Regions from separate parts of the Homo sapiens genome. Here all the other regions are linked to region 3. The links come from fine-mapping of genetic effects on plasma protein levels. A gene starts in region 3. Each other region holds a variant in brackets. All regions are shown on one strand. Distances are between the middles of the regions. Region 1 overlaps LOC100287944 (a long non-coding RNA gene). Region 2 overlaps TCP11L2 (t-complex 11 like 2). Region 3 holds the start of CKAP4 (cytoskeleton associated protein 4). Region 4 overlaps TCP11L2 (t-complex 11 like 2). Region 5 has its middle 19 kb from the start of CKAP4. Region 6 overlaps POLR3B (RNA polymerase III subunit B).

The links. PIP is the posterior inclusion probability: the model's chance that the variant is causal. Protein levels are from antibody-based Olink assays in UK Biobank. Linkage for the fine-mapping came from a reference panel and not from the study's own genotypes, which makes the PIPs less certain.
Region 1: its variant is fine-mapped to the plasma level of the CKAP4 protein (UK Biobank, PIP above 0.99).
Region 2: its variant is fine-mapped to the plasma level of the CKAP4 protein (UK Biobank, PIP above 0.99).
Region 4: its variant is fine-mapped to the plasma level of the CKAP4 protein (UK Biobank, PIP above 0.99).
Region 5: its variant is fine-mapped to the plasma level of the CKAP4 protein (UK Biobank, PIP above 0.99).
Region 6: its variant is fine-mapped to the plasma level of the CKAP4 protein (UK Biobank, PIP above 0.99).

The regions. Positions count from the first base shown.
Region 1 is chr12:106,562,676-106,567,749 of GRCh38, forward strand. All of the region lies in intron 1 of LOC100287944 (a long non-coding RNA gene), which reads right to left. Among named protein-coding and RNA genes, the nearest start is that of RFX4, 18 kb to the right of the region's middle. The variant C/G (reference allele first, on the strand shown) is at 3,071.
Region 2 is chr12:106,306,231-106,311,304 of GRCh38, forward strand. It overlaps TCP11L2 (t-complex 11 like 2), which reads left to right. Exons shown (of 10, transcript NM_152772.3): 2 at 4,811-5,002. The coding sequence starts at 4,846. Among named protein-coding and RNA genes, the nearest start is that of TCP11L2, 6.0 kb to the left of the region's middle. The variant A/G (reference allele first, on the strand shown) is at 2,027.
Region 3 is chr12:106,245,700-106,250,773 of GRCh38, forward strand. CKAP4 (cytoskeleton associated protein 4) reads right to left here and starts at 2,321. Exons shown (of 2, transcript NM_006825.4): 1 at 1,670-2,321. The coding sequence starts at 2,152. It overlaps LOC124903008 (a long non-coding RNA gene), which reads left to right and starts at 2,573. Exons shown (of 2, transcript XR_007063443.1): 1 at 2,573-3,060; 2 at 3,972-5,074. RefSeq lists silencers at 1,467-1,556, 2,217-2,526, 2,557-2,896.
Region 4 is chr12:106,323,732-106,328,805 of GRCh38, forward strand. All of the region lies in intron 6 of TCP11L2 (t-complex 11 like 2), which reads left to right. Among named protein-coding and RNA genes, the nearest start is that of TCP11L2, 24 kb to the left of the region's middle. The variant A/G (reference allele first, on the strand shown) is at 2,101.
Region 5 is chr12:106,226,879-106,231,952 of GRCh38, forward strand. No RefSeq gene overlaps it. Among named protein-coding and RNA genes, the nearest start is that of CKAP4, 19 kb to the right of the region's middle. The variant G/A (reference allele first, on the strand shown) is at 2,353.
Region 6 is chr12:106,480,758-106,485,831 of GRCh38, forward strand. The region is part of intron 23 of POLR3B (RNA polymerase III subunit B); the gene reads left to right. Among named protein-coding and RNA genes, the nearest start is that of RFX4, 100 kb to the right of the region's middle. The variant T/A (reference allele first, on the strand shown) is at 1,954.

The DNA.
Region 1 (5,074 bases), 320 kb after region 3:
ATAACATCAGAGTAGGCACTGTAGCCAAGCTGGGTAGTTAAGAACCGGTTAACAGTGGGTACAAGTAAACTGCTCAGCCCCTTAGCATTCCTTCCTCCCTCTACCCTGCTTTATAGTGACTCCTCCTTCACAGACAAATCTTGAAAACAAGGGGGTCCAGATGGAAGTCCAAACTGTAACATCCTGAGCTCTCTCTTGCTCTCTTTCTCTCTGCTCCCTCAATGCCAAATTTATCAAGAAAGATAGAAGCTAGGGCTTATGCTTTAGCCTTTCTCACTGGCTCAGGCATCTAGTACCTCTAGGACGGAATTTCTCAACCTTAGCATTATTGAAATTTTGGCCAAATAAGTTTTTGTTGTGGGAGGATTTCCTGTACATTATAGGATTTTTAAGTGCATCCCTGGCTTTTACACACTAGAGCCAGTAGTAATACTCCTCCACCCTCCACCACAGGTGATGACAACCAAAAATTTCTTCTGTTGGGGCAAATTTACCCCAGGTTGAGAATCTCTATTCTAGAAGAATAGGTATAGGGCCACTGCATTGCAGTGTGACAGCTCTGAATTTGAACTCCTAGGAAAAAAATATACTCCTGGGTATAATTAGCCACTGATATAAGAGAAAAGCAACTAATGGAAAAATCTAATCTTAGATAAAGCAAACTTAGCAGACCAGACAGAACAAGAAAGCATATTAAACAGATAAGAAAGGATACTGTGAAGCCAAAGGCATAATGAAGCCCCAAGAAGAATTTCTGAGTATAAAAAATTGAAACAAAAACTCAATGGATTGACTATTGATTAGTAGATTGAATAGCAGAATACATAGATAAGAAATCAAAGTAGTGGAGTATTAGTTCCAGATAGCATCATTATGGGTTTTATAGTTGTAATATAAAAAAGAAAAGAGATATGGAAAATAGAAACAGAAGCACCAACATTCAATTAATAGAAGTCTCAGAAGAAAAGAAAAAATAACAAGAGTAGAATATTTAAAGAAAGAGTAAACAGAGAATTTCTCAGATTAGAGAGGTTTTTAAGACCTCAAAGTACAAGTACTCCTAACAAGATAAGGAACATAAGAAAAAAACATACCTAGATACATGTTCATATCATTTAAGCACATCAGAGACATTGAGAAAATTCTAAACACTTCGAGATACAAAACAAATTGCCTGAAAAGGAACAAGAATCACCAACATCAGGTTTCTCAACAGTGACATCTACAAGGAAACCACAGAGTAATATTTTCAGTATTAAAGTAAAAGAACTTAGGACCTAAAATTCTAAATCCAGCTAAACTATCATTTAAATATGATAATTAATAGTAATATTTAATGTTAATAATTCATGTTTGCCATAGAAACACCCTCTTTGAAAATATTCAAGGAAGTGCTCTAGCAAGAAGGAAACAAGGAGGATGTGGTCAAAAATGGAAGGGTGAATAAATAATTTGGTAAATTCTGTTGTAAAACTCAGCAACCATTACAATGAAATAAGCAAACAAAACATGTATGTGACAATCGATAATTAAAAATGATTAGATAGATTGAAATGTCTCTTGCTTGAAATTATACATTCAATTTTATTCTTTGGGTAGTCGTTCATAACTTACTAAAACAAAAACCTGGTTTAATTTTACCCTTTCTAATGGCAAGTAGTAAGAGGAAATAAAAGGAACAGAAAGTGTGGTAAATAGAATACATGAAAGGAAGGTCATATGTATAAAATTCACTAGTATAAAAAGATAAAGATGCAGAGAGGATTAATATCTAATGTTATCTATGAGAGAAACACTTAAAGCAAGAGAATACAAAAAGATAAAAAATACAAGAAGGGAGATAAATACACCAGAGAAATAGGATCTTAAAGAGAGCAATTTTATTATCAGAACAAATAGATATGTGACAAAGAAGGAAGCTTTATATTTGTAAGGCATATTTCAACAGATATATGATCACACCTGTATATTCACCTAAGAAAGCACTGAAACACATATTTTTAAATGACAATTGAAAGAAATAACTAAGTCAGCAAGTATAGTTGGTAGTATGAGACACACAAGTGTAAGCATTTGTCATACTCATGGAACTGTAAATGAGATCTGTGCATTTCACTAAATGTAAATCATCCCTTCTCTCAGTTCTAGTCCTCCAAGAAGCAGGAGACAAAGCAAGATTAGACATGCAAGAAATGTATTGGGAGAAAAATTCCTGTGAAGGGTAAAAAAGAGTAGAAAAAGATGGGGAGAATCGTCACATGGTAACGCCTGACTCATATCTGTGAAAGGAAAGGGGGAAGGAAGAAAGATTAGGTAGGACAACTCTCAGTCTGCAGCAACGTTCTAAAAATGGTTCAGCCGGGCAAACGGGGGGCCTTCAGACAAAGCTTGCATTCTGCAAGAATGCACCGGCGCTATTACCACTACTGTACCCAGTCACTGGGAGCCATAGGTAAGACTGTGATGGTAGCCACAGAGAGGCAGCAGCAGCAGCTGTCAGTCAACCATGCTCCCACAGCAGATTCTCTTAAAAGAGATCTGAGTCACACGTCTACCTGACTGCCACATACCTCAGCAAAGTTATGAAAAAAAAAATCCAATAGTGTTCCTCTATACTAGCAATAACCACGTATAAAACAGGATAAACAAGATAGCATTAATAATAGAAACCAAACCATAAGTTCCTGACTAAATTGAACAAACTAAGGCAGACTTTTACCAACAAACTTAAAGGACATATTTTTTTAAAATAAATGAACAGATTATTCCATGTTTATATGTGGAGTGACATGTAAACATACTGATTCAACTCAACAATTTAATGCAAGTTCAACTGAAATTACTCAAAGGGCTGGGCATGGTGGGTCACGCATGTAATCCAAGTATTTTGGGAGGCTGAGGTGGAAGGATCGAGTGAGCCCAGGAATTCAAGAGCAGCCTGGGCAACATAATGAGACCCCGTCTTTAAAAAAAAAAAAAAAATCAAAAAATTAGCTGGGTGATGGTGTGTGCCTGTAGTCTCAGCTACTCAGGAAGCTGAGGCAGGAGAATCAGTTGAGCCCTGGGAGGT[C/G]GAGGCTTCAGTGACCTGTGATTGTGCCACTGCACTCCAGCCTGGGCAATGGAGGGAGGGAGGGAGGGATGGAAGGAGGGAAGGAAGGAAGGGAAGGGAGGGAAGGAGGGAAAGAAAGAAGAGAAAGAAAAAAAGGGGGTAGGGAGGGAGGAAGGAAGGAAGGAAGGAAAGGAAGAAAGGAAGAGAAGGAAGGGAGGGAGGAAGGAAGGAGAAAGAAGGAAAGAAATTGCTCAAGGATTTTTGATAAATTTGACAAATTTCTTCTAAAATAAATATATATGAAAAATTTAATTCCATGAACCACTAAGCCAGTTTTGAAAAAGAAGAGAAAGGGAAACTTGCTTTACCAGATATAAAAAATGTTACAAAGACATAGTGATAAAGGTAGAATGGAACCAGGTCAGGAAGAAGCAAACAGATGAAAGAAAATGACTAAAGAGTGCCTATATGGGAAATTAGAGTATGATTGTGGTGGTGCCACACACCAGTGGGGAAAATATAGATTATTTAACAGATAGTTGCTGTGGACTGAATTATGAATTGTGTCCTTCCAAAATTATATGTTGAAGCTCTAGCCCCCAGTGTGACTGTATTTGGAGGCAGGGCCTTTAGGAGGTAATTCAGGTTTAAGGAGGTCATCAGAGTGGAGCCCTAAGCCGACAGGATTGGTGGCCTTATAGGAAGAGGGAGGAGCTTCCAGGTTGGTGAATACCTTGAGATTTGGGAGGGTGGCACCCAAGAGAAGACATGACAGTTCTGGACATACAGACACGCGCATCCCCCTGCTTCCCCACAGCTTGCCCTACACATCTCTTCCATTTGGCTATTCCTGAGTTGAAATGTCCATGTCTGTTTCATCACCATCACACCAGCATTAAAAACTACCTTTATAAAAACTGGAACCAATTTGGTGGGTTCAATGCCTTGTTGGTCCTAGAACTGTCTATGTGACAGCTGGGGTGGGGGTCAGACTGCAGGGCATCACCTGCACATGGGTCACCTTGGGCCAGTTACAGGATCTGCCTTTAACTAAGAGGCATGAACAAGAGACAGAATCCAGCAGCTGGATTGACTGATCCATCTCTCACTGCCCCCAAGCAGAGGAAAAGGGTTTCTAGAGTCGTGGACCATGCTTTGAAATGCTTTTCTTGGCAAAAGAATGTGTCAGCCATCTAGACCACAAAGATACCAGGAAGCATCTGTTCTGCACTGAATAGCATCTGCGTCTTGAATTTCCTCTGGATCATCTTGGGCCACTCCAGTTAGATACCCATACGGCTGTCTTTGGGTGTGGAGAGTGGATGAGCCTTTATGAGCAATCAAGGAAGAATCTTTTGTGTGGTGGGATCCTACTGGGGAGCCTTCCCCACAAGCAGCCTCCCTACTGTTTTAGAGAACTAGACCATGACCTTCCATAAGTGTGTTTTCCAGGCCAGTGTGCCATAGCTGCTTTAACTCCTGCTAGGTATAAATCAGGCACCTGGCTACAAGTGATACCTGGGTGTTGTATTTTTATGGTCCAAGGAGTTGAGTTTCTTCTCACCATGATTAATGAAGATTTTTCTCCCTGAAAAACAGGCAAGCATACATAAATTTTGTGCACTAGTATTAAAAAAAAAGGGAGAAATCTCTTTCTCTATCTCCCTGCCCACACACTAAGGAAAGGCCATAGGAGGACATAGCAAGAAGGTGGCTGTCCACAAGCTAGGGAGAGAGCCTTCACCAGACACAGAATTGGCAGAATTGAACATCTCACCTCAGGAACTGTGAGAAAATCATTTTCTGTTGTTTAAACCACCCAGTCTATGGCATTTTTTAATGGCAGGACAAGCTGACTGAGACATGTTTTGATGGAAAAAGAATGGTTAACCATACTGGAAAAACATTGCAAAACAATACAAAGGCGAACTACAGATGGACTAAGTGCCTAGATGGAATGATAAAAGGTCAAGTGAATGAAAGAAAAATGAATGTAATGCTGGAGACAGGAATTCTTAAATAAGA
Region 2 (5,074 bases), 61 kb after region 3:
TAACCTTCTATTTGGAAATACTTTCAAACTTACAGATAAAGTCGTGAGAATAGTATAAGGAATACCATGTTGTCTACCTTTTTCTCAGATTCACCTATTAACATTTTGCTCTATGTGCTTTATTATTTTTTCTCTCTTGCATTTGAATCATTTGAGAAAAAGTTGTATATGTCATGGCCCTTTATTCCTAAATACAAAACCACAGTACATTTCAACTTCAGTATATTTAACATTGGATAACAGACAGTAGATTCAAATATTGTTAACAGTGCTATTGATTGACTGATACTGTCCTTTACAGCATTTTTGCTTCAGTATAGGATCCACTCTAGGATCACCTATTGCACTCAGTTATCAAGTGTTTTTTTTTCATTTGGAACATATTCTCAACCTTTCTTTGTTTTTTATGACATTACATTTTCGGAACTTGTAACTTCTTTTAATAAGAATAAAATAATAGTTGACATCCGTCAGGCACTTACTAGGAGCTTAAGTACTTGACAGATACTATTTCAGTTAATCTTCACAACACTTCTACAAGGTGGATACTATTATTGTCCCATTTTACAAATGGCGAGTTCTCTGTTTCTAGTCAGTAAATAATCAAGAGGAGCCGGGATCAAGAACCCAGTCCACCTAGCTCCAGAGGCAATGTTCTTATGGCTTCAGTGACATGTATTATCATCAGTGTATCTTTGCAATTCTGAACCAGTGCAGAACTATTTGCAGATAGAGTTGCTGCAGAAAGGAAATCAGGAAGTAAAGCTGCACACGAGCTGAGGAATCACAAGCAAATTAAAAACCAATCTCCTCTCTATCTGTAGTGAAATACAGCACTAGCCCCTTCAAGTCCTTGTACCCATTCACACCTCTTAAATGTCAGTAGTCTTACTACCATTCATTTATTCAACAATAAATATTTGAATAAATATTTGAATGCTTGCTGCATTCCAGTGATGGTCTCAGAAGAAATGACATTATATTTATTATCACAAAGTGATGGAATAATACAATCAAAAATGTGAATATGACAGTACTTTTCTTTGAATAGTGACCTGCTATCGTGTTGGAGGCTTTGCTTGGAGTCATCTTCAGTCTTTTCTGTTGACTTTACCTTTGACCAGTGATTAAATCCTCCAGGTATGATGAGATGTGATGTTTCTGAAAAGTTGTTTGATTTACTTGTGAGTTGCAGTGGCAAAGGTTAGGTAGATCTAAGTTTGCATAAGGAGTATTACCTTTCTTAAAGATACAGCCTGGTTTCATTATCATCAGTCTAAAGGATAATCCAAAATAGTTTTTAAAGCAATCTAAATATCCTCAGTGCCTTTTGAATCAAGTAGGTTTGTCCCCAGGTGACTTACTTGGAAACTCAAGACCGAGAAAGGTAAGAGCAGGTATGAAGGAACTTGCGGAAGACCATTCACACAGTGATGGGCCATTCGCTTTTGGTTTTTGTCTGTCAAACAAGTGCCAAGAGTTCTGTTCTATGTTAACTACCAGCCTTGTTTGTCTGTTGAAGAATATGGTGTTATCCTGACATAAAACTGTTCTTCCCTCCAGAGTGTTTAATTCCTGAGGCAATGATATTAACAAAAAAAAGCAAATAATAGAAAACATTTGTATACTGTTTACTGTGTCAATGACTGTTCCAAACACGCTGCATGTATTGGGTACCTGAAATCTCACACCAACCCTATGAATTAGGTATTCTTAGTAAGCCTATATGAGGAAACAGACAAATTTTTAATAGAGTAATAATGGGCATTTTGGCTTCAAATACAGGTTTCTGTTTGGATACACTAAGGCCCAGTTGTAATGTGGAGGCTTCTACCCACTAAACAAGAGTTTCTAAACATTTTGAAGCTTTTAAATTTTCCATTGCAGCCCCTGTGCCAGGAACTCTACCTCCAGTGAATTGCTGGAAGAAAGTGTAGTTTCACATTGTTAAGCATGACTGCCATAAGCACATTTAATTTCTCAGAACTTCTAGTGATGCCTCATGGAACTCTGGGTTTGGAGCATC[A/G]TATATTCCTTGCTGAGAGAAACCTTATGACTGGCCCAACCTCTCAGAAAAATGTGCATAAAGTCACACGGCACATTAATGATGAACCCAGGCCACAAACCCTGGACTCCTGACTCCCAATTATTTTAATCTTTGCACTTTTCTGCCTTGTTAAACACAGTTAAGAAACCTACCAAGTGTGCTATCCAGCTAAAGTAGAAAAATGAAATGGACAGTTAAAACTATTAAGCTAGTTCATAAATTCTCATGGCTGGAAGCTCTTATTCAATTTCACTTGGAAAAACAGCCAGAGCTCATTTGAGGGCAACCGAAGTAGAGAAAAATTAAGAGCAGAGCATGCATAGCACAGCGGTTACATTACAGGGGAATAACTGGGGGAAAAATGACTTAAAGTGGAAACAAACTTTAAGATATTCAAATAAGAGCATGACAAGGACCTGAGAATCTTGAGGTTTAAATCTAATAAGATAGGCTTAAGCAGTAGATTCTCTGCTCTAAGGCTTGGGCTTTGGCAGTACCAGCCTGGTTAACGTGTCATGATATCAGGTTGCAAATGTTCTGGTTGAAGCTGTACCAAATGAGATTCAGGGATTCTGATTTAGCTGACACTGAATGAATACTTGTCATATACTTGGCGCTGGTCATGGACAAGACACAAACTCTGCTTTATTAAGGAGATTCAGAAGTAGCCATGGGAAGAAAGGAACAAGGAACTAATGTACAAGGAACTAAGCGCTGTCATGGAGATACAGGAGACGCGCTGCAGACATACCAAGAGGAGTGCTATTCACTTTGGCTAGAAGCAAGGCTTCCTGGAGAAGGTAGCATTTGCAAGAAATGCCATCAGTGGGACATCAAATGTTGGCAAAGAGAGGAAGCAAACTAGAGGGGAGGGTGAACATTCCATTTAGGATTTGGGGTTTGGTGGCAGTGAAAGGTTTGAAGTAGCCCCTTTTCTTCTGTCTTCTCTCGCCTTCCCCTGAGCAGATTGGAGTTTAAGCTCAGGTAGAATTTAGTCTTCATGAGTTAGAGGAGGCTGTTTCACCACTGAGGATGCAAGGGCTCAAGAATCTTATAGCCAGTGTTCATGGCTTTGGGATTCTGGGATAAGGTGAGTGTCTCCACTCCACTCCTTGCCCTTCAGCCTGCACAAGTGGACTCTAGTGGTTTTCTGCTTGCAAAAGTGGTGGGCTCAGCAAGGATACATTTCTGTGGCAGGATTGAAGACGGTTGTTTAGGTGAGGCAAGGCGCAAATGACCTTAGACCTTTCACCCTTATTAGATCCCTCTCAGACTCATCCTTGTCCCCATCACCATCCAAGGAATTAAAAAAATTACTCTTTTTCTCTCAACAAAGGCTAGTGCCCCTTCTCCCGCTCTGCTAATCCTGAGCCTGCCTCTCCTTTCTTGTGTTTTCTCAACAATGCCTTATTCCCCCTTTTCCCATCTAGTAGCATTCAGTACACAGTTTTAGGTAGCTGGACTTGAGAACCACAAGAATAGGGCATTGTCTTTGTTTGGTTACTTTCCCCGGTGCTCAGTGCTCAAGTAGGCACTTGTTGAATATTAATGGAATCATTGAAGAAACTGCAGGCATTTTCAGACATACTATACATAGTTGTGGTTTCCCATTCTGGCCGCTTTAAAAGCACTGCATCCCTCATTGCATGGGCTGGTTTAGGTTTAAAAGGATTCAGTGAACTCTTCCTCTCATTATTGTCCATCCAGGATTTGAGGTGCCTTTCTCCTTGAGCCCGGGTTTCCCCTTCAGTGTCAGGTGATACCATATTCACATCAAGGTCAGCTCCCTCACGGGCCTGGCTGGTGCTCCTGGGACCAAGGCCTGGTCATCCTGTGTGCCTGTGATCTGCTTTCTGGGTAGTGTCCAAACCTGACGGCCCTTCCCTGGAAGGATTCTCATGTCCCAGAAACACTGGACATAGACACCAAGGGACTGGTTTTATCATGTAGTAAATCCCCTTATCCCTCTGAGTCTGTTCCCCCACTTGTGAGTCAGGATCCTACATGCTTGTGCACTCATAGGGTTGTGATGGGTACTTTGTAAATTGTCAAATCCTAACCATATATCAGGTCTTAATCTTCATATCACAGCAGTTCATGTGGAAATGGAGGGGGAAGAAGCTAAAGACTTGCCAGCCAGAGGTTTCATGCGGTCTTCCCCTTTCCCCAGGAGGTTCACAGAAAGCGTAAAGAGGCTGATTTCACAGCTATTTTATCTGAAACAAAGCAATAGGAGCAATAATAGCAGCTAACATTTGAGTACTGTGCCAAGCTCTTTAAGATGAATTCTATTCAATCTTCTGGCAACCCAATGAGAGGTTAGTCTTTCAGTCCAGTTTCACTATGAGGTAGGTAGTTAAGTGACCTTCCCAAGGTCTCATGGCAAAAGGCAGAACAGAACGAGAGATCTGACCCAAGTCCCACACTCCCGCCTTCTCATGTTTCAGCAACCCAGGAGGAGAGAGCATGTGTCCTGCATCTTTTTAAAAAGGACCTGCCATTACTTAGAGCTTCACATTTATAGTGGGTGTGTCCTGAGTAAGCTCACACCTATGGCTGTGGAATCCCTTTTCAGAAAGGCAATCTCGATGACCTAGTGATCTGGCCTAGTCCGGCCAAGGTGCTGGGGGAAGGATGAGGTCATCTGGGGGCCTTTCCAACACAGTGACACTTGTGGGGACAGTTGTCTACACTGGAAGAAGCATTGGTGGTGCCTGTGGAAGTACCACAGAACATTGACGCAGGGTCTGTTTGTCTGTGCAGGTGCTACCTTTTTACCCACACTTAAGTGACGCAAAATGCCCTTCAATGGCGAGAAGCAGTGTGTGGGAGAGGACCAGCCAAGCGATTCTGATTCTTCCCGGTTTTCCGAAAGCATGGCTTCGCTCAGTGACTATGAATGCTCCAGGCAGAGCTTTGCAAGTGACTCCTCCAGCAAATCCAGCTCTCCTGCTTGTGAGCCGATGGGGGAGCAGGGGTTGTGGGTGGCAGGGGTACTTCTAGATATGTGTTGGATTTGAAAACTCA
Region 3 (5,074 bases):
TTCTCCTGCCTCAACCTCCTGAGTAGCTGGGACTACAGGCATGTGCCACCACACCCCGCTAATTTTTGTATTTTTAGTAGACACAGGGTTTCACCATGTTGGCCAGGCTGCTCTCAAACTTCTGACCTCAGGTGATCCGCCCGCCTCGGCCTCCTACAGTGCCGGGATTACAGGCGTGAGCCACCACGCCCGGCCGTGCTCTGCCAGTCTTAAGAGGAAATTCCTGGTCCTGCACACTCAACAAAAGCAGAGAGCAACTTGGCAGGACAGACAGCATGCTGGGAAAAGGAGGCAGTGGCTCCGGGATCAGAAGTGGCGGGATTTTTTGTTTCAGTCTTGCAACCAACTTTCATTGAGCAATGACATAGTGGAGGGCGAATAAGATCAAAGGGGCTGTACTTGGTATGGAAAAACCACAGAAGGGTGGAAGCTAAGCACCTTCGCCTTGAGAGTTGGGTCCATCCATACCTGAAATGGACCCCTGTGGACCCTTGACGAACAGGGCAGTGGCCTAGACATTCTCGTGTGTCTGTCACTCACCAGCTGGGGACTTTGTCAACTCATTCCTCTGTCTAAACCTCAATGTTCTGCTCTGGGAAATGAAATCAAAACTGTTAGTCCTCCCTCCCAGGGTAGTTATAAGAATTAGATAATATGTGAGTGAGTAAGCATTCTAAACACCATATAAATGTGGCTAGAAGTATTATTCACCAGTATGATCTAGTATTTTTGGCCCTCCTCTTCCCCTAAAGCGGAAGTAGGGCCGGGCGCAGTGGCTCACGCCTGTAATCCCAGCACTTTGGGAGGCCGAGGCAGGCGGATCACTTGAGGTCAGAAGTTCGAGACCAGCCTGGCCAATACGGTGAAACTTTGTCTCTACTACTAATAAAAAATTAGCTGGGTATGGTGGCACATGTCTGTAATCCCAGCTACTCAGGAGGCTGAGGCAGGAGAATCGCTGGAACCTGGGAGGCAGAGGTTGCAGTGAGCTGAGATCGTACCACTGCACTCCAGCCTGGGCGACAGAGCCAGACTCCCTCTCAAAAGAAAACCCAAAAAAGCTGAAGTAGGACTACGTCAAAGGCCCACCTGGGCAGGCTGGTCCAATACAGGACAAGGGACCTAAAGATAGATGGTATTTCATTTGGACCTGCAAATGAGTAAGAATGCCAGCTCCGGGTCTATTAAAAACCCCGCTCGGATGTCTCCCACAGGCAGAGCTGAGGTGGGGCCTTGCCTGAGGCTTCCAGGGATGCGCTGGCTTCCCTTCCAACCTCCTTTTCAGACAGCTCTGCCCATTCAGCGGTTCCTAATGCAGAAAGAATGGGCTCCCCGGAGCCTGCCGGCTTCCTTACAGGTCACCGCTAATGCCCTGTGACAGGCCCTTGGCCCACCCTGCCAGGCGGGCCTGGGCATCCTCGCGGCGGCCCATCCCTCGGGGCCGATTCCTCCGCAGCCATTAACAAAGGGGGTCTGGGGACTGCCTCGGAACTAGGGGGCCGCGTGGAGTGGGATGTCTAGGCCAGGGCCCGCCAAGGAGGAGCGGCCGGCTCCCGCCTCCGGGCCTGGGCAGGCAGCGCTAGGGGCCGGTCGGGAAGCACGAAGGAGCCCGGCCGTGGGTCCGGAGGCCGCAGTCGATGGGGACAGTTGCGGGGCCGGGGGTACCCACCTTCTGCTCGACGCCCTGCAAGCCCTGGCCCAGCTCCTCCCTCTGCCGGGAGAAGTCCTGGTGGCTGCGCCGGACCTGCTGGACCTCCTCCAGGACGTGGTGGACGCACCAGCCCGAGAAAGCGGCCGCCGCCACCAGGGCGAGGTAGAAGAGAAAGTTGAGCGCCCTGCCGAGCCTGCGCGAGCAGGACGCCGAGGACGAGGCGGCGGCGGCGGCAGCGGCGGCGGAGGCGGAGGAGGAGGAGGAGGACTTGCCGCCGCCGCCGCCGCCGCCGCGGTGGCCGCCCTTGCCGTGCGCCTGGTTCTGCGGGTGCTGCTGCGGGTGCTGCTGCGGGTGCGGCGCGGGCGGCGGCGGCGGCTGCTGCGGCGCCGGCGGCGGCTTCTTCGCCACGTCATCCGCGCCGCCCGACGGGTGGGCACCCTTCTCCGAGGGGCTCGCGGCGCCGTGGCCGCCCTTGGAGCCCCTTTGTTTGGCCGAGGGCATGGCGGGCGCGGCGGCGGCTCGGGCCGCGGGCTGGGAGGCGAGCGAGCGCGGCGCGCGGCCCGGGAAACTTGCAGGGGCTCCCCCGGGACTGGGCGAGCGGCACGCGGGCGCTGCTGGCGTCGGAGCGGCGAGAGGACGCGCGGCCGGGGAAGGAGGCCGGGCCGAGGAGGCGGGAGGAGGGGGCCTGCCTCCGCCGCCGCGGCGCCGACCCCGCCTCCCGGTAAGGGAGGCCGAGCGAGCCGAGCCGGGAGAGCTTGCCACGCACGCCGGCCCGGCGGCCCCTCCTCCCCGCCGCCACGACCCCGGAGAGGGAGGGCCGGGCGGGGTCTACGGGGGCCGGGAAGCCGGCGCGGGGGTGGCTGGGCGCGGGGCGGGGTCCCGGCGGGGTCTGCGGAGGCCGGGGTGGGCACCGAGGTGGCCGCGAGGGGAGGGGAGAAGAGCGGAGCGGAGGGGAGGGGACGCGGCCGAGGTGGGGCTGGCGGCCCGGCGGGTTCCACGCAGGCTGGGGGCGGAGGGCCAGATCGACCCCAGCCGGGGCGGCCGAGCAGGGTCCACGGGGGTCGGGGATGGGCGGCCAGGCGGGGTCGGAGGGACGAAAGCCGGGGTGAACCTGCGCCGCGGGCCAAGCGCGACCCCCTCCCTTCCCGACCTGTGCGGAGAGGAGAGAAATGAAGGGGGGCGCCCAAGGAGCCCTGGCCCCGGGAGTGGGAGTCAGCGGGTGGGAACAGATCGCCCTTCCTTTCCGCTGGGAATTGGGGGACTCCCCCTGCTTTCACTCTCCCAGCCCGCCATGGGGTTGGGCCTTGTCCTTTGCCTTGGGTTTGAAGGCGGAGACAAAAAAGGCTGTCCAAAATCCAGCCAGCTTGGGAGGCATGGTTGATGCGAGTTAGCAAAGATTCTCGACTGTGGTAAGTCTGTTCAAGGGGACGCATTCACCAAGTGTCCCCGTTAGCCAAGTTAGCCTGCTGTGGCCAGCTCTTTACTTTTTCCCCCCGAAGCCCCTTCAGCTCTGTTTTCTCTTTCGGGGTCATGAAGTTTGTCCACGGCCCCTACTCCTGACAGCCTCTGGGATGGGTGCTGCGGAGGCAGCAGCAGCCACACAGAAAGAGGCAGATCAGCGTTGTCACCCCTACTTTTGTAAAAGGAAATCTGGTATTGCCAGGCTGTGTGGTTAGCGACTCACATATGTTCTCGAAATCTCACAAAAGCCCTGTGAGGTAGAAATTATTTTACCCATTTTATAGGAAGGAAATTGAGACTGAGCGAGCCGGCTTCGGATTGGCTCAAGGTCACATATAGTCATCATTCGAACCTCACTCAGTCTGCTTCTTTCTGAAGTCTGTGCAGCTTAATCACTTCAGAATGGGAAGGAAACGGGGGCCCAGGGAAGTTAAGCAACTTGCCCACTCACTCAGTCTAATTGGTGCCGGGGCAGGGACAGAACTCACTCAATTCCACTGCTTTCCCCAGTTTCTGGTGAGTGATGTGTGCCTGGCACTGTGTGCACCTGGCACTGTGTGTAGTAGGAATGCTGTTTCTTCTGTCTGTAACCTCCTCCCAGTTCTGTAAACAAAGACAAAACCATGCCCTGCCCTTAAAGCCTATAGGGTTCAAATGCCACCTCTTTGATGATGCTTTCCCTATAACACCATTTGATACCTCTCATGGGACTTAGCAAGTAATTGCAACGAGAGGCATATATGTTAGTTCAATATAGCAAACCTTTGTTGAGGGCCCACTGTGTGCCAGGTATGTCTCCCCTCCCTGAGGACTGGAAGCAACCATAGTTTATATTTCTCCTTCTTTCTCGCTTTATAAGGTGTTGCTAAAAGCCTCCAGTGAATGAATGAACACTTGTGTGCCTGCCCTCAAGGAGCCTGCACTACACTTGGAGATATATACAGAAACCTGTTGAGGGCTAACTTAGGTAAATTGGGAACATAAATGTAAAGAGATTTGGAAAGCAAACCATTGGCCTGTACATGGGCAGGCTTTGGGGGCAGAAAGACCTTGAGCAGTGCCTTGAAGAATGATTTGCATATGAGGAGAGCAGGGAGGATATTTCTGTGGCGGAAATGGGGTGAGCCCAGGACACCTGTTGGCCATGAGGGTGTGTTCTACATGTAGAGAAGAAAGAGATGAACTGGGTGGAGCGGGTCCAGATTGCAGAAGGCTATAGAAGCCAAGCTGGCAGATAGAAGAATCGCTATTAGTGTGGGAGGACAGAGTAAATTATAGCAGGTTCTGGACTAGAAATACAACCATCTGCCCCAGACAGAGAGGAACACCCTACTTCAGCTAAATACCAGGAGCTATTGTAGGAGCCTCTAGGTTCAACAGGGCACAGGTCTCTGACCTGTGGCGCGGGGAGACAGCAGAAGAAATCAGAAGACACTCATCACAGGAACCTTGTTTAAAAACTATTCAGCTGAGTTCGGGTTGTGTTGTTAAAATCTCTAGCGCGCAAAAAGAGGTTATCCCCCTTCAAGCAGTTCTCCATGTTAGGGGCAGAGGCAGTGATAACTGGTAAAGCAGCTTGCTGCCAAGATCTGGCCTTGAAAGCAAGAGCCCTACTCCTTTAGTGCTACCAAAGTGTGTGACCTTGAGAAGTATCCCTAAACTCCTCTAGATTTCAGGGTCACCCTTTCTGTAAGGTGCATCTTTAAGGACCTGTCTTATTATTAATCCGTTTCTTAGAGAAATAGTCATCTGATCCTTATCAAAAATAATTAAATGATATTTAAATTTTTAAAAATTGATCCAGGCCAAGTACAGTGCCTCACACCTGTAATCCCAACGCTATGGGAGGCCAAGGCAGGAAGATCACTTGAGGCCAGGAGTTCAAGACCAGCCTAGATAACAGCAAGACCCTGACTCCACCAAAAAAAATTTAGCTGGATGTGGTGGCACTCAGGAGGCTGA
Region 4 (5,074 bases), 78 kb after region 3:
ATTAAATTAAATTAATAAATAAATAAAATTTAATTTAATTTAAATTAATTAAAATTTAAAATGTTAAAGGTTAAAATGAAAATTAGGTGATGTTTTCATTTTTGACTTCATATATAGTATCACTAAAGAATTTTGGCCTTTCTATTAAACATTTTTTTACCTTCCAAAATTGACATCACAAACTTACAGTTGTTTATTCTGTCCAGGAACTGTGCTAAGCACTATTCGTTTCTTCATTCATTCAAGATATATTTATTGAGTGCCTCCTGTGTTTCAGACACTGCTTAGGTGCAGTGGATACTGCAGCGAACAGAATGGAATACAGTTGCCGTCCCCAAGGAGCTGACATTCTAGTAGGCATGACAAATAAATAAACATATATTGTCAGGTGTATTATTAAGTGCTATGAAGAAAAATAGGATAAAGGGACAGTAATGGGTCAGAAGTGAGGACAGCATTGTTTTTTAGATGTGATGGACTGGGAAGGTCTCTGTAAGTAACATTTGAGTAAAGTTTGCAAAGAAATGAGGAAGGGGCATGTAAAGATGGGGAAAAGAACGTTCTAGCCTGAGGGACTGCAGGTACAAAGGCACTGAAGCAGAAACTGCTTATGAGTTTGACAAACACAGGGCAGACATTGTGACGGGAGTAGAGTTGGTAAGGGGAGAGTGGTAAGAGATGAGGCTGAAAAGGAGATAAAGGCAGGTCACATAGAGCATTGTTAGTAAATGAGAGGAGTTTGGATTTCATTCCATGTGCGGTGGAAACTCATCAGAGAGTTTTAATCAGGGGAGCAACATCTGATTTTCATTTTTGAAGAATATTCTTGTTCCTGGCTACAGAATAGGTCATGTGGGAACAAAGAGGGAAACAGAGGTACCAATTAGGTGGTATTACAGTTGCTCAGGCAAGAAATGATGGTGGCTTGTTCCAGATGGTAATGGTGGAAGGAGTGAGAAGAGACCAGATTCTGGATACATTTTGAAAGTGGAGTAATCAGATTTGCTGAAGATTGGATAAGGGAGAAAAGAGTTGAGGGTGACTCTAAGGTTTTTGGCCTCGTACAACCGGGTGAATGGTCATACAGTTTGAGTGAAACTGGTGAGACCAGGAGAAAGAAGGTTGGGAGATGACATGGAATCAAGAGTTCAGTTTGGTGATGTAAACTTTTGAGATTTCATTTGACATCAATGTGGAGATGTTAGGTAGGCATTTAGATATGAATTATGAGTTTACAGGAATAATGGAAACTGTATATGTATTTGGGAATCATCAGTATATGTATGATATATAAAGCCATGGAACTGGGTACTAGTTAACACTTAGAAAATCCTTATCACACTCTAAGTACTTTACCTGTACAAACTAATTTAATCCTTGCAACAACTATATGAAGTTACCCCCCATTTTATGGGTGCGGAAACTGAGGCACTGTGAGGTTAAGTCACTGGCCTATGTAACACACTTAAAAGTATAGGAGCTCACCTAGGAAGGCAGCTTGGCTCCATAGTCCATGTTCCTGTCCATTATATTACACTGGGTGAGACTACCTAGGGGGAGTGAGTGTGGACTCTGAAAGAAACTGACGTGGGGCACTCCAGCAGCTAGAAGCTGAAGTTGAGATGAGGAGGAGGGTCTAACAATGGAGACTATGAGGGAGTAGCCAGAGAGGTAGTGTGACAGTCAGGAGAGGCGGGTGTCCTGTAAGATACGTGAAGAAGGTATTTGGAGAAGGAAGGCATGTTTGGATTTGACAAGCATTGCTAAGTGGTCAAGAAAGACACAGGCCAACTTGACCATTGGATTTGACTGTTTGATGATGGTCAGTAACCTTGATGAGAGTGGTTTCAGTGGATTTGTGTGCATTAAAGCCAGACTGGGCAGGGCACAGTGGCTCACACCTGTAATCCTAGCACTTTGGGAGGCCGAGGCAGGCACATCACCTGAGATCAGGAGTTCAAGACCAGCCTGGCCAACATGCTGAAACCCCTTCTCTACTAAAATCTAAAAATTAGCCGGGATGATGGCAGGTGCCTGTAATCCCAGCTGCTCGGGAGGTTGAGATGGGAGAATCGCTTGAACCCAGGAGATGGTGGTTGC[A/G]GTGAGCCAAGGTCGCATCATTGCACTCCAGCCTGGGGGGCTGAGCAAGACTCCGTCTCGGAAAAAAAAAAAAAAAAAAAAACCCACACACACCAGACTGGAGGGGGATCAAGGAAAAATAGGATTAGAAGAAATCTTAGCTCATCAAATCTTCACAATTACCAGTTACCCAGTGAAGTAGGTACTGTTATTCCCTTTATCTTACAGGCAAGGAAACTGAGATGCCAGAGGTTGCACAGCTGCAAGAGGCTGGCTAACTGCTCATTGGCAAACTCTTGACACCAGCCTCTGGGGTTTAATTAACCACTATTTAAGGCTGAGTTAGGTGGTTTCTGCCGAGATAATCAACACAATGGCCTTATATAAAAAAGACAAAACAGGCGCCACATTTAAAGGGGCCCTGGCAGGCAGGAGCACATCCAGGGGAGAGCACATTGATCATGGAGGCCACCTGAGGAACCGTCGAGGAAGCTGGGCATGTTCTGCTTGGTAACAAGGAGACTCAGGTGGGCCATGGCCCCATCCACCCTCCCTGTTGACAGCAACTCAGAGACTGGTGAAATTCTGTAGGGCAGACTAGGATTCATGAGAGGGAGGAAGCAGACAGCTGGTTTTGACCTTCCTGATAGTTGGAGCTGTTTTAACTTTGGAATGGGCCTATTATAGCAGTAGTCAGTGCTAGCTAACATTTTGTATGAGCACTTACTACATGCTAAGTCCTTACTGTACCACTTTAGTAGTCTATGCAAGCATCACACTAGCCCTATGAGGTTGGTACTGTTATCACCCCCTAATACAACTGAGGAAAGTGAGGTTAAGGTACTTAGTCTAGATGACTACTAGTAAGGGGTAGAGCCTGGGTAACCCAGATGTGTCTCTGACTCAAAGCGTGTGCATTTAGATACTGTGCAACCCTGCCTCTCTTCAAACAAGATATCAACTGTGGGGGATATTGCAGAGGGATCTCTCACATCATCTGGCAGATTATTTAGTCATCTGGATAGCCAGTTATCTAGTCAGATAACTTTTAAGTTTTGTTCTATAACAAAAACTCTATGACTCCAAGGGCTATGTTGTTTTAGCTTCAAAGGGGAGGGAGTAAAGTGAAGTAGAACCCTACATCGAACCTGGATCTGAAACCTCAACTGTGGCAACTGTCCACAGCAGCATTTCTCTGAGACTTAGTGGTTGCTTTCATTTGTGTACCTGTGTATGTAAGCACATGTACAAATGCACCCATATCTTTCATCAAGATAGCTTGGAATCTTGAGCAAATTCTCTAATAGGGTGAATTATGATTTTCTTCATCTCAAATTATTTGCCTATTTTTTTTCTGTTTTTTTTCTTTCCTTCTTTTTTTTCCCCCCTGTTTGTCTTTAAGAGACAGAGTCTCACTCTATTGCCCAGGCTGGGGTGCAGTGGCATGATGATAACTTACTCTAGCCTCCAATTCTTGGACTCAAGGGATTCTCCTGTCTCAGCTTCCCAAGTAGCTAGGACTACAGGCATGTGCCACCACGCCTGGCTAATTTTTAAAACATTTTTTGTAGAGACGGGGGTCTGTGTTGCTCAGGCTGGTCTCTAACTACTGGCTTCTTCCTGCCTCTCAACTTGCTGGGATTACAGGCATGAGCCACTGCACCTGGCTTGCTTCTCTTTTTAAAACCCAGGCTTAGTGACCTGTAATCCATTTGCAACTTTTCTATTGACTTGGATATTTTCAGAGATTTAAGAATAGAGCAAACCCAGCTTTGCATATAGGTCATTATTGCTTAGCAAGAGAAATCAAGAGTCCCAGAAGCAGAGTGTATGTCAGCTGTTAATTATGTCCCCAAGTCACTCTGCCAAAAGTCAGCCCCTGTGCCCTAATATCAAAATAAGAGCCTCAAAATGTTGGATTTCTGTGTACACATGATTATATAAGAATTATTAGAAAATTAATACAGAGAAGTACTCTAGATTTCTGAATTGGCTCCAGGAAAATATTTTATTTTGCCTAAGAGGAGATTTTATATAATTGCCTATTTTAAATATAGCCAGGAGAACCTTAGGAATGATTATCTGTACTAAGTAAGTAGCAACAAGATAACCACATTAGATCCAACATGTAAATTATCTGTGAAAATAGCAAGAGATTATCCCTGGGTGGGGGCCATAAGTAATTTTTAAGATACCCAGAAAGAAAGGCTTTATTTAGACAATACGTCATATCTGATCAAATGTTTTCATGAACTTTATTTCATGTTATTCTTTAAAAAAATTCTGTGGGACATAAATATCACTTTCAGAATATTTGAAACTCTATTGTGATTGCCTTCACCTGTCACATGAGGGGTTCAAGAAATATTTATGGAATATTTTAAAGAAGAGCAAACTGATGCTCAGTGATGACCTCCTTAGACTCAGAATCATTCAGCTAAGTAAACAGTGGAGGCTGGGCGCCATGGCTTACGCCTGTAATCCCAGCACTTTGGGAGGCCAAGGCGGGCAGATCATGAGTTCAGGAGATCGAGACCATCCTGGCCAACATGGTGAAACCCTGTCTCTACTAAAAATACAAAAATTAGCCGGGTGTGGTGGCGCGTGCCTGTGATCCTAGCTACTTAGGAGACTGAGGCAGGAGAATGGCTTGAACCTGGGAGGCGGAGGCTGCAGTGAGCCGAGATTGCGCCTCTGCACTCCAGCCTGGGCGACAGAGCAAGTGTCTGTCTCAAAAACAAAACAAAACAAAACAAAAAACAGTGGAGCTAGGACTGGAAACCAGGTCTCCCAAATCCAAGTCCAGATTAAACCAAGCTGCTACTTTTTCAGCCTTCTTTGAATTTTTCAGTTTTGTGTTATATTACCTGAGTTGTATTGCAAGGAACAGAAACCAACTCTAGCTGACTTAGCCAAAGGGAAGTGAATGGAAGGATGGAGGAAGTTTGCAGAATCAAAGGAAAAGCCAAAATGTCAGAAATCAGAAGAATGTCAC
Region 5 (5,074 bases), 19 kb before region 3:
ATTTCTCTGGTATTTTTAATGGTACAATTGGATTTTATCCCCTTTCTGGAACAAGAGCGAAAAATGAAGAAATCATTCCTGTGATCCCTGACTCTGACACTAGATGGCAATAAATTCTCACTTCAATTATGTTCTCTGGGTTCCTACTGCCACAGTCAGCTGATTTGGGGCTATTCCCCAGCTGAAAGTTCAGGGGCTTGAGCCGCTCTGGATTTTTTACTGGTGCATCCCGGCATCTTCTGAAAGTGAATAGTCTTCACATGAGGTTATCCAAGATGTCAGCCCGGCCCGGCCAACATTCCCCATTTCACCCCAATAAATGAGAAAACATTAATTGTGACCCAGTGTGTGCCGGCCCCCATGGGAGCTACAAACAGACCCTTGGTTAAGACAGAAGCCACCCTGGCCCCTAGAGATCTGCTCACTGTCTAGTCCTTTTTCCCTTAGGCCTCCTCCTGCCCACCCGAGGCTCCAAAAGACTCTTGTGCAATGGTTAAAGTCAAGGAAAGTTGGATCTGGAAGAGAACATGAAGATTACTTTATCTCCCCTCACTTTTCAGATGGGAAAACAGATGGAGGCCCAGAGAAGGAAAGTGAATTATCCTAGGCAGCACAGCCCGGCAGGCCAGCATTCGGACCAGAGTCCTGATTCCAGGTGACTTCCCCCATCCCTGCTGTTCTTGTCACACCATGTGAGAACTCCGTCCTGGAGTGCAAACCAAGATCATACCCGTGAATGGAAGAAAACAAAAAGACCTAGCCTTCTGAGTTTCCATGAAGGACTCTGTGGGACAGGATGTGTCCTCACACCAGCAGCCACACCCAGTTGGTAATGCCTCTTTCAACACAACATCACCAGCTATTTGAACACAGGCCGGGATTTCCCCACAGCCCCATTACCCAACAGGTATTGCTCCTGAGTGTTCGCTGCCACACGCGGGGGCTTGCACAGCAAGGCCAGGCTGCCACACCCCTTCCTGCCAAGAGTGGGTTTTGCTGCCTGCAGCAACTCAACTGCCCTGATTCTTCGCTTACTTCTGAGCATTTTGCATCTGTGCTTAGGCCTGGAGCCAAAACAAATTGTGGGGGATAAGAGAAGAAATTAGGCCCTGTCTTCTTAGCCAGTTAGTGTATGAGCTTGGGTGAACAACTTCTCTGAGACTCAGCCTCCCCATCTGTAAAACAACAGAATTAGATTAGAGCCTTCTCTCAGCCTTAGCTTTCTAAGGCCTGTCACATGGCTACTTAGCTATCATTACTATGAAAAGTAATCATGCGTAAATGCAGCACTTCACGTAATATATGTAGGCGTCATTTGTTTTCTGACCTGTACTAGTTTAACTATTAAAAGTATAAGCTTTTCTCTATGTGTTTCTTCCCCTTTAAAAAAAAAAAGTTTAATTACAAAATATTTCTGACCTATGAAAAGATATCAGGAATATGGGGAGGCCAGGCATGGTGGCTGACACCTGTAATCCCAGCACTTTGGGAGGCCAAGGCAGGTGATCACTTAAGTCCAGGAATTCAAGAACAGAGTGAGCAACAAGGCAAGAACTTGTCTCTACAAAAACACAAAAATTAGCCGGGTGTGGTGGTGCACGCCTGTTAGTCCCGGCTACTACTTGGGAGGCTGCGGTGGGAGAATCACTTGAGCTGGGGAGGTAGAGGCTACAGTGAGCCAAGATCGGCCACCGCACTGCAGCCTGGACGTATATATATCACATATATATATACCATCTCCCCATATTTTTTTATTTTTCTGAACAGAGCAAGACACTGTTCAAAAAAATTGTAAAAATGGGGAGATGGATATATATGTGATACACAAACATAGCAAAGTGTTCATTATAGTATCTAAGTAGTAGATATATGAGTGTCCGCTGGACAATTCTTTCAACTTTGCTGTTTGAATTTTCATAATAAAATATTGAAAGGAGAAAAAATGTATTATGAGTGATATCATGAATACTTAGGTAGCCTCCACTCAGCCTAAGAAATCAAATGATCTGAATTTGGATATTCGGTCTCCTAGTCATTTCTTGGTACTTTCACTACAATGTATAGTATTATTTTACACGGTAAAATGTCTTAGTTTTAAGAATTAAGGAATTTCTGAAGTGTCACACTGTGTATTTTGTCTGCAGCTTATTTTTTCACTCAGCATTTTAGTTGTGAGATTCATCCCCACGATATATGAGATTAGGATTTCTTCCTTTTTGTTGTCGTTTTGAGGTCTATTGTATGAACAAGTGATAGTGGATTTACTGATCTTGTAGCTACTTTCTCGGTGTTTCCACTTTTCTTTCTTCGTAAGCGGCGCTGCTGTGCCCATTCTCTCCACGGCTGCATGTC[G/A]CCTTGTGCGCAGGAAAGGGGACACAGTGGTGTTCAGGGGCTCTGTGGAGACACACATGGCCTCTAGCACAAGTGACCTGGGTGTTCAAACTATGTCCTCAGGAACCTGTGTTTTGCCGACTCTTGGTTCTGTTTTCTTCTATGCTGGCCTCATTCTCAGTGGACTCTGCACATGTGGTGGCCTTTAGCAGCCCTGGGCATTTATCCAGCTTGGCAGTCCCGGTGGGCAGAAAGCATCCCTTTCCAGAAAGTTCCAGCAGTAGTCAATGGACTGGATGGCGACCTGTATTCCTCCTGCACAAGTCAAACCAGATTTCTGATTGGCCAAACCTGGGTCATGCACTCAGCCCAGTCAGTCTCATCAAAGCCAAATGGACTGAGAGTGGGGAAGGGGTGATTCCCTAACAGAAAACAGAGAAGTGGTCACCAAATGAAGGAGGACTGGATGCTGGGCAGGCAACAACACATGTCCAGGACCCAGCAGTCCTCATGTGGTCCCTTGACCGCTGCACAGGTCACCCTGCATGTGATTATGGTGCCATTTACATGTCTGTGTCCCCTGTTTGGCTGGGAGCCTCTCAAAGAGGAAGACTTCATCTTTCATCTCATCTCCGCTGAGCAAATGCAGCTCAGCACCCAGTTTATAATAAATGACAGTAGGTGGAATCAATCCCTTGACCAAACACATCCTGAAGACGGGGAAGGGCAATTCAACCCTCTGCCTCTGAGGTTTTAGGTCCTCCCTCTGTGAACCCAGTCAGAGGGGTATGACGAAGAAAACGTCCACTACACCTCACCCTCTCTTTTTCTCTCTGAGTTACTGACCATCAGGACAAATGCAGTGTCCAGTTCAGAAGTCAGTATGTTCTCAAACAGCTGCCCTTTATTGAACACCTACTATGTCTCACACTTTTTTTTAATATATGGCTGGGCAAGATTCATCCAGATAGGAATGTTTCCAGCCTTCTGTGAATATGCTGAAAACAACTGTACACTTTAATAGGGTGAACTTTATGGTATGTGAATTTTATCTCAGTAAAGCTGTCATTTTTTAAAAGAAATACCAAGTCTTATATGGTATGATTTCATCTCTACAAAATTCAAAAATGGGCAAAATATTCTATGGTGATAGCAGAATAGTGGTTAGGTTAGAGGGTATTGACTGAGGAGCACGGGGAGCCCCTGGTGTGCTGGAAAAGTTGCATATCTTGATCTGGTAGTGAGTACATGGAGATATCGTGTGCAGAAATTCATTCAGCCATATATTTCAGATGTGTGTGCCTTAAAGCACCAAAGTTGCACCTCAACAAAAAGTAATCCCAAACAGTGATGTCTTTTTAAGTGAAGAAAAGAAACCAGTTCTAGAGCAGTACAAAATTTTAATGGTTTACCATTAAAATGTAATGGTTTGCCATTACTTTTAATGGCAAAAAACACGATTACTTTTGAACCAACCTAATAACTCAAGCTATTGGGTTCTAAACCTGGCTACCCCACTTGCTAGCTATGACTAGGAAGTACTTTGTCCAAGTTACTGAATCGCTCTGTACCTCAGTTTCCCCATCAGTAAAATGGAGAGGCCAATAGTACCTACCCTTAGGACTATTATAATGATTGAATGAGATAATCCTCGTAAAACCTTTAGAGCAGTGTCTGGCACATAGTAAATGCTCAATAAATTTTAGTTATTTCTGTTATTATTGATGTGGGCCAAGCACAATGATCTCTGTGGATGCAGAGATGAAAGACAGAGCCTTATTCTCATGTGGAACACACCAGAAGCAAGCGGTCATGATACAGACAGAGGAGCACTTTGAAGACAAGAAGCCTGGAGTGTGGGCTCTCGTGGGAGGAGCTCCCAAATTCAGCCTGTGGTTTGGGTTGAAGGATCCAGGGAACGTGCAAAGGCACCAAGAGTGACAGAACCAGGGGCCACATGAGGGGTAGTTATGCTAATCAGGGCGGCTACAAACAGAGTTCACAGAAGAGGAGGCTGGAGGGCAGGAAGACAGAGCAATCGGAAAGCTCCTTCTTGGCCACGACCCAGAGCCAGGCTGCTCCTGAGGCCAAGGGGAGAGCCTAGGGATTTCGCAGGGAGGGGACACAGGCAGATTTACTTTTGAGAAAGAGAACGATGGTCACCCATGGAGGATTGATTCCCTGAATGGGAGCCAGGCTAGAGACAGGGAGGCCAGTTAGGAGGCTGTACCTGTCCCTCAAGCATATACTGCAGTGTGTATAATACATTGTCCTGTATGTCTCCTCCCAGCTGCATCATGAGCACCATGAAGGCAGGAACCATATCTATAAAGTAATCTCCTTAGTCTGGCAAAGAGTGTGCGCTCTCTGAATATTGTTGAATGGATACTGAGTGCATGGACCACGTTTCTGATCTCAGTTGACCAGCAGAGAGCATCGTGGGGAGCGGCTGCTGCTGGAACCCAAAAGGCTGGGAGGAGGGGACAGAGGTGGATGTGTCAAGGCCTCAACCCTAGGAGAAGTGGAGGGAGGGGAAAGGGGAGAAACAGGGAGACAACGGGTGACTCCTGAGCTTCTAGCTTAAGCAGTGAAGGGGCCAGCTGTGCCATTTACTTCGAGGGGAAATGACTTCAGTTTGGATCCGAGGGAGATTTCCGAGGGTGTTAGGGGGCAGCAAGGTGTCCAGATATTATTGGAAAAACAGATTAGTAGCTCAGAGGTATGGTCTCAGCTAGGCATAGGG
Region 6 (5,074 bases), 240 kb after region 3:
TGGTCACAAGCAGTAAACAAAATAGATTAAAGTTCCAACCCTTGCGGGGCTTGTGTTCTTGTGGGCAAGAAGGAAAATAGTAAGTGCTGAGGGAATGATATGTCGTGAGATGAGAAAAGATTGAAAGCTGGGAGGGGGGATGGGAAGCATGTGAGGGGAGGGCGTGTGGTTAGTGATTCAAAGTTTAGGCAGAGTGGTTGGGGAACAACACCATGTTGAAAAGATGGCATTGAGTAAAGATCTGAGAGAAGTAAGAGGGTGAGCCCTCTCTGGCTGAAGAGCATTTGAGGTGAAGGTTTTGCAGCTGTAGCTCACCTAATAGAAGACCAGCAAGGAGGCCCCATAGCTGGAGCAGAGTGAGAAGTGAGGAGGCAGCCATGAGGCTCATAGGTCACTGCAGGAACTTTGGCTTTTATTCTGAGGGAGAGGGAAGCCACTGGAGAGGGGTTTGAGCTGGTGAGAGAGATGATCTGACTGACACTGGCTGCTGTGTTGAAAGAAACTGCAGTGGTGCCAGTTCAGAAGCTATGTGAGAGTTGGAGGTGGGCTGGAAAAGCATAACGATGAGGAATTGGTGAGAAGGGATCAGAGTCTGGACACATTTTGAAAGTAGAGCCTCCTGGAATTGCTGATGGATTGGGCGGCTTTGACTCAGTCTTCTTGCTTTCAGCTTCGCTCCTCACGCTGCCTTTTGCAATACTAGTACTTCGTGTCTCTGTCTTCTGAGCCTTCCCAGGAATCGGGTGGGTGAGTGGGGGTGGCACCAAAGGCCATGTCAGCTCACCTCTTCACATCTCATCTGCAGGGACTTAGTATTACTCTCCTGTTACTTTTCTTTCCTCTCTTTATCAGCTTTCAAAGTTGTAGAATTATCTCATGCCCACTGATACCACTGTGCCCATTCTTTCTCCTTACACGTAGGTTTACACCTTAATTTTTTTAAACTCAGTGAAGTTTAGAGAAGCAGTGTTGATAAACACATGTGTTTCATCTGTCATGTTTAACTAGAAATCTGTTTATTATTTGTGAATATTCAGCACAAGAATGTTTAGTGAGTATGCTTGATTTTTTTCAATGCAACTTATAGAACTGAAAATTATTTTAATAAAAAATGAGAAGGATTTTTAGAGCACTAACCTTTTGTTTCCTGACCAGAGCCTTGCCTCTAAGACTTCTTGGGTTTGTTTGTTTGTTTGTTTTTGTCTATTTTAATCAATTCTCAGATTGAAAATTAATTTTAAAATGTTTAAAGCTCACACCCTGAGAATTATTACATAAATGCTAACAATCATCAGAGAAGCATTAATCATAGTTTGTCAGCTCTTATCTGAAAATAATTTATCTTTCTTCTGGATCATTGTTGTAACTAAGGTCTACAACTTTGGTCCTCTTCTTGAATGTCACCCATCTGAAGCCAGAGGCATGACAGTAGTAAAAGTCTATTTTTTGAAGTTTTATAAATAAAATTCTAAAGATTCAAAGATACCAATAGTTTTTTTAAAAAATAATTGTATATGTTGTTAAATATCCAGAATACCTTGTTGGCTAACTTAGTGTGTTATTCCATTCTCACACTGCTATAAAGAAATACCTCAGACTGGATAATTTATAAAGAAAAGAGGTTTAACTGGCTCACAACTCTGCAGGCTGTACAGGAAGCATGGCTAGGGAGGCCTCAGGAAAGTTACAATCATGGCAGAAGGCAAAGGGGAAGCAGGCACATCTTACACGGCCAGAGCAGGAGGAAGAGAGAGAAGGGGGAGGTGCTACACACTTTAAAACAACCAGTTCCTGTGAGAACTCACTCACTATCATGAGAACAGCGAGGGGGGAATCCACCTCATGATCCAATCTCCTCCCACCAGGTTCTTCCTCCAACACTGGGGATTTGACACGAGATTTGGGTGGGGACACAAATCTAAACCATATCACTTAGGTAAGTATATTTTAGGT[T/A]CGTTGAGATTAGGAAACATGCCCTGCTGATTTACTTAACCCCAAAGCACCCAGCATAGCACTTTGCATATAATATGGTATCCACTTATGATGTTTGAGGAATCCTTTATTAAATAAAGGATTTTACATATTCATTGGTCTTGTTGGAAATTGTACTGACATAACAAGCCAAACTCACTACTCCCAGAATAAGTGTAATTTATTCTTCCTAGTAAATATCAGAAATGAGATGCCTCATTTTTATCTAAACTGGCACCAGGAGTTTCAACACCTAAGACTCATAGCTCCCCAACCCTAACTGATCACACAGGCCCACTAAAGCTTCTTCAGCCATAATAACTAAATATAGTTATCCCTCAGTATATGCTGGGAATTGGTTCCAGGACCCCTGCATATATTCAAGTCCCACAGTTGGGCCTGTAAAACCCAAATATATGAAAAGTTGTCCCTCTGTGGAGAAGGGCTCACATTCCGCAAATGCTGTATTTTCGATTCATATCTCATTGAAGAAAAATCCCCATATAAGTGGACCTGCACAGTTAAGACCTGTGTTATTCAAGGGTCAACTGTATACATGCCCACCCACGTCCATCCCAGGCACAAATGAGAACCTGCCTTGACAGCCCCAGGGAAACCTATTCGGTCATTTTTAAGTTACTGTTGTGGGCTCAAAACTGTGTGGGGCACTTTAGGGGATAGAAAGTAAATTAATCCCTTGACTAATGCCCATGAGGAGTTGACTGACACCTGAAGCAAAAAGATGGATACGAAGGATTACATAGTTAAATGCTAAATTATATGGGAGAAACCACTAAAAATATAGAGGTTTAGAGTTTACCATAGATAGGAATAGAATCTTAGAGTTTGAAAAGTCCTTTTAGAAGTCCAGTCTAAATCCATCTTCTAGTATAAGAGTTCTTTTTAGATTATCTTTGGCAGATGGTTTTCCATGTTGATTGTGGCCTGTGAAGGGAGGCCCTTGCTATTTTCTGAGGCAGCCTCTTCTGTAGTAGCACTGCTCTGATAGTTTTCTTGAGTCAGAGGTGCTCAAGAGTTAGTAAGAGTGCTCAAGAGTCTATAAGTTACTGCAGTTAGTCCTGCCTTGTCTTGTGGGCCATACTGAATGAACATATTGCCTTTTCATCACAGCCATCCTCTGTTCAGTATTTAAAGAAAGCCCTCGGATTGACGAAAAGTATAGCAGAGAGAGAAAGGTCTTGAACTCCAACTAGGTGAACTATTTTGTCCCTTTATGTCTTGGCCTCCTTGATACTAATGTGTAAAAGCAGGGAACACAGTGCCTGATGCACAGACAGGAGGCAGTAAAGGTGAGCTGCGGGCAGGTCTGTCTTGGGTCTTCTCTTGCAGGCTGCCTGGTAAAGGAAGCCCTCAGAGACTAGATGGGGTTCAGGCTTAGAGGGCTTTGATAAAGATGTGAAAGAAAAACAGGGGGCAGCAGAGAAGAGCAAATGAATGGACTTGACTGACTGAAATAAAGACAGCATAAAGAAGAAAAACCACGGGGACTGTGGTTTTAATCCGGTAAACGATGGCACCAATCACAAAGCATTTGTGTCTCACTGACTTGAGATGGTGAGATGATGGAAGATCATCTCGAGTGCCTATATTGTTGATTAATTCATCCATTTATTGAGCTTTCACTGTGTGCCAAGCACTGTTCTAAATACTGGAAATACAGAGGTAAACAAGACTGATGGGGTCTCTGTTCTCCCGGGATTTGTGTTCTCCTTGGGGAGGAAACAGACAAAAAAGAAGTAAACAAAAATATAAACCCCAACTACTTAGTAGGCTGAGGCAGGAGGATCACTTGAGCCCAGGAGTTTGAGACCAGCCTGGGCAGTATAGCAAGACTCCATTTCAAGAAAAAAAAGTGTAAACAAAAATATAAACAGGATAATTGAAGGTAATGATAAGTGCCATATATGAAGAATGATATAAAAGAGTGGATGGTTTAGAGGTGGGGGTGTGTACTTTAGATTACGATCAGGAACAGCCTCTCGGAGGAAGCGACATTGAGCTGAGACACGAAGGATACAAAGGAGCCAGCCGAGCAAAAGTCTGGGAGGATTTAGTTATAGGCAGAGAGAATCATTAGGGTAAGAGTTCTGAGGCACGAATAAGCTTGGTATATTCAAGGAACAGAAAAAAGGCCAGTCTGGCCAGGCATATGCCTGACAAGCAGCACAGTATGAGACTTGGGGAGTGACAGAAGGATGATGGGGGCATATCCTATAGGGCCTTTTGGCTAAAAGAAAGGAGATTGGACTTTACTCCAGATATGCTGGGAACCAACAGAACCGTTGGATGGTGGGTGTCTTGGTCCATTTTCTGCTGCTATGACAAAATACCACTGACTGGATAATTTATAAAGAAAAGAAGTTTATTTGGCTTATGGTTCTAAAGACTTGGAAGTGGAGGAGCGTGGCACCAGCATCTGGAGAGGATCATCCCGTGGCAGACAGGCAGAGGGGCAGGAGAGCTTGCTTTTATAACCAAACCAGTCCTGAGATAAGTAACCCAAGTCTGTAATAATGGCATTAATCCATTCATGGGAATGGAGTCCTTATGACCTAACCACCTCTTAAAGGCCCCATATCAATTAAATCTCAACATGAGTTTTTGTGGGTACATACAAACCATAAAAATGAATATAAGCAAAGGAGTGACGAGATCTAACTTACAACTTCTAGAGCTCACTGTGGATTCTATATGAAAAGTGGATTGGAACGGGCAAGGAAGGGGGCAGGGAGACCATTGCAGTGGTCCAGGCAAGAAAGGGTGGTGGCTTGGACTAGGACAGCAGCAGTGGAAAAATAGAGAGAAGTGACTGGATTCTGGACATACTCTGGAGATAGAGCCAACAGGACTTGCTTATGGCTTGGATGGATGTTGCAAGAGGAAAAGACAGGAGTTGAGGATGAAGTTTGTGGCCTGAGCAACTGATAATGCTGTTTACCAAGATGGGAGCAATTGGGTAAAGAATAGTTTTTTGGCATTAGACAAGGGCAGAGGTTGAGAGTTTGGGCCTCAGGTTGAGATGATTAGACTCCAAGTGAAGATATAGGCTGGCAATTGGTTATAGAGTCTAGAGCTCCAGGGA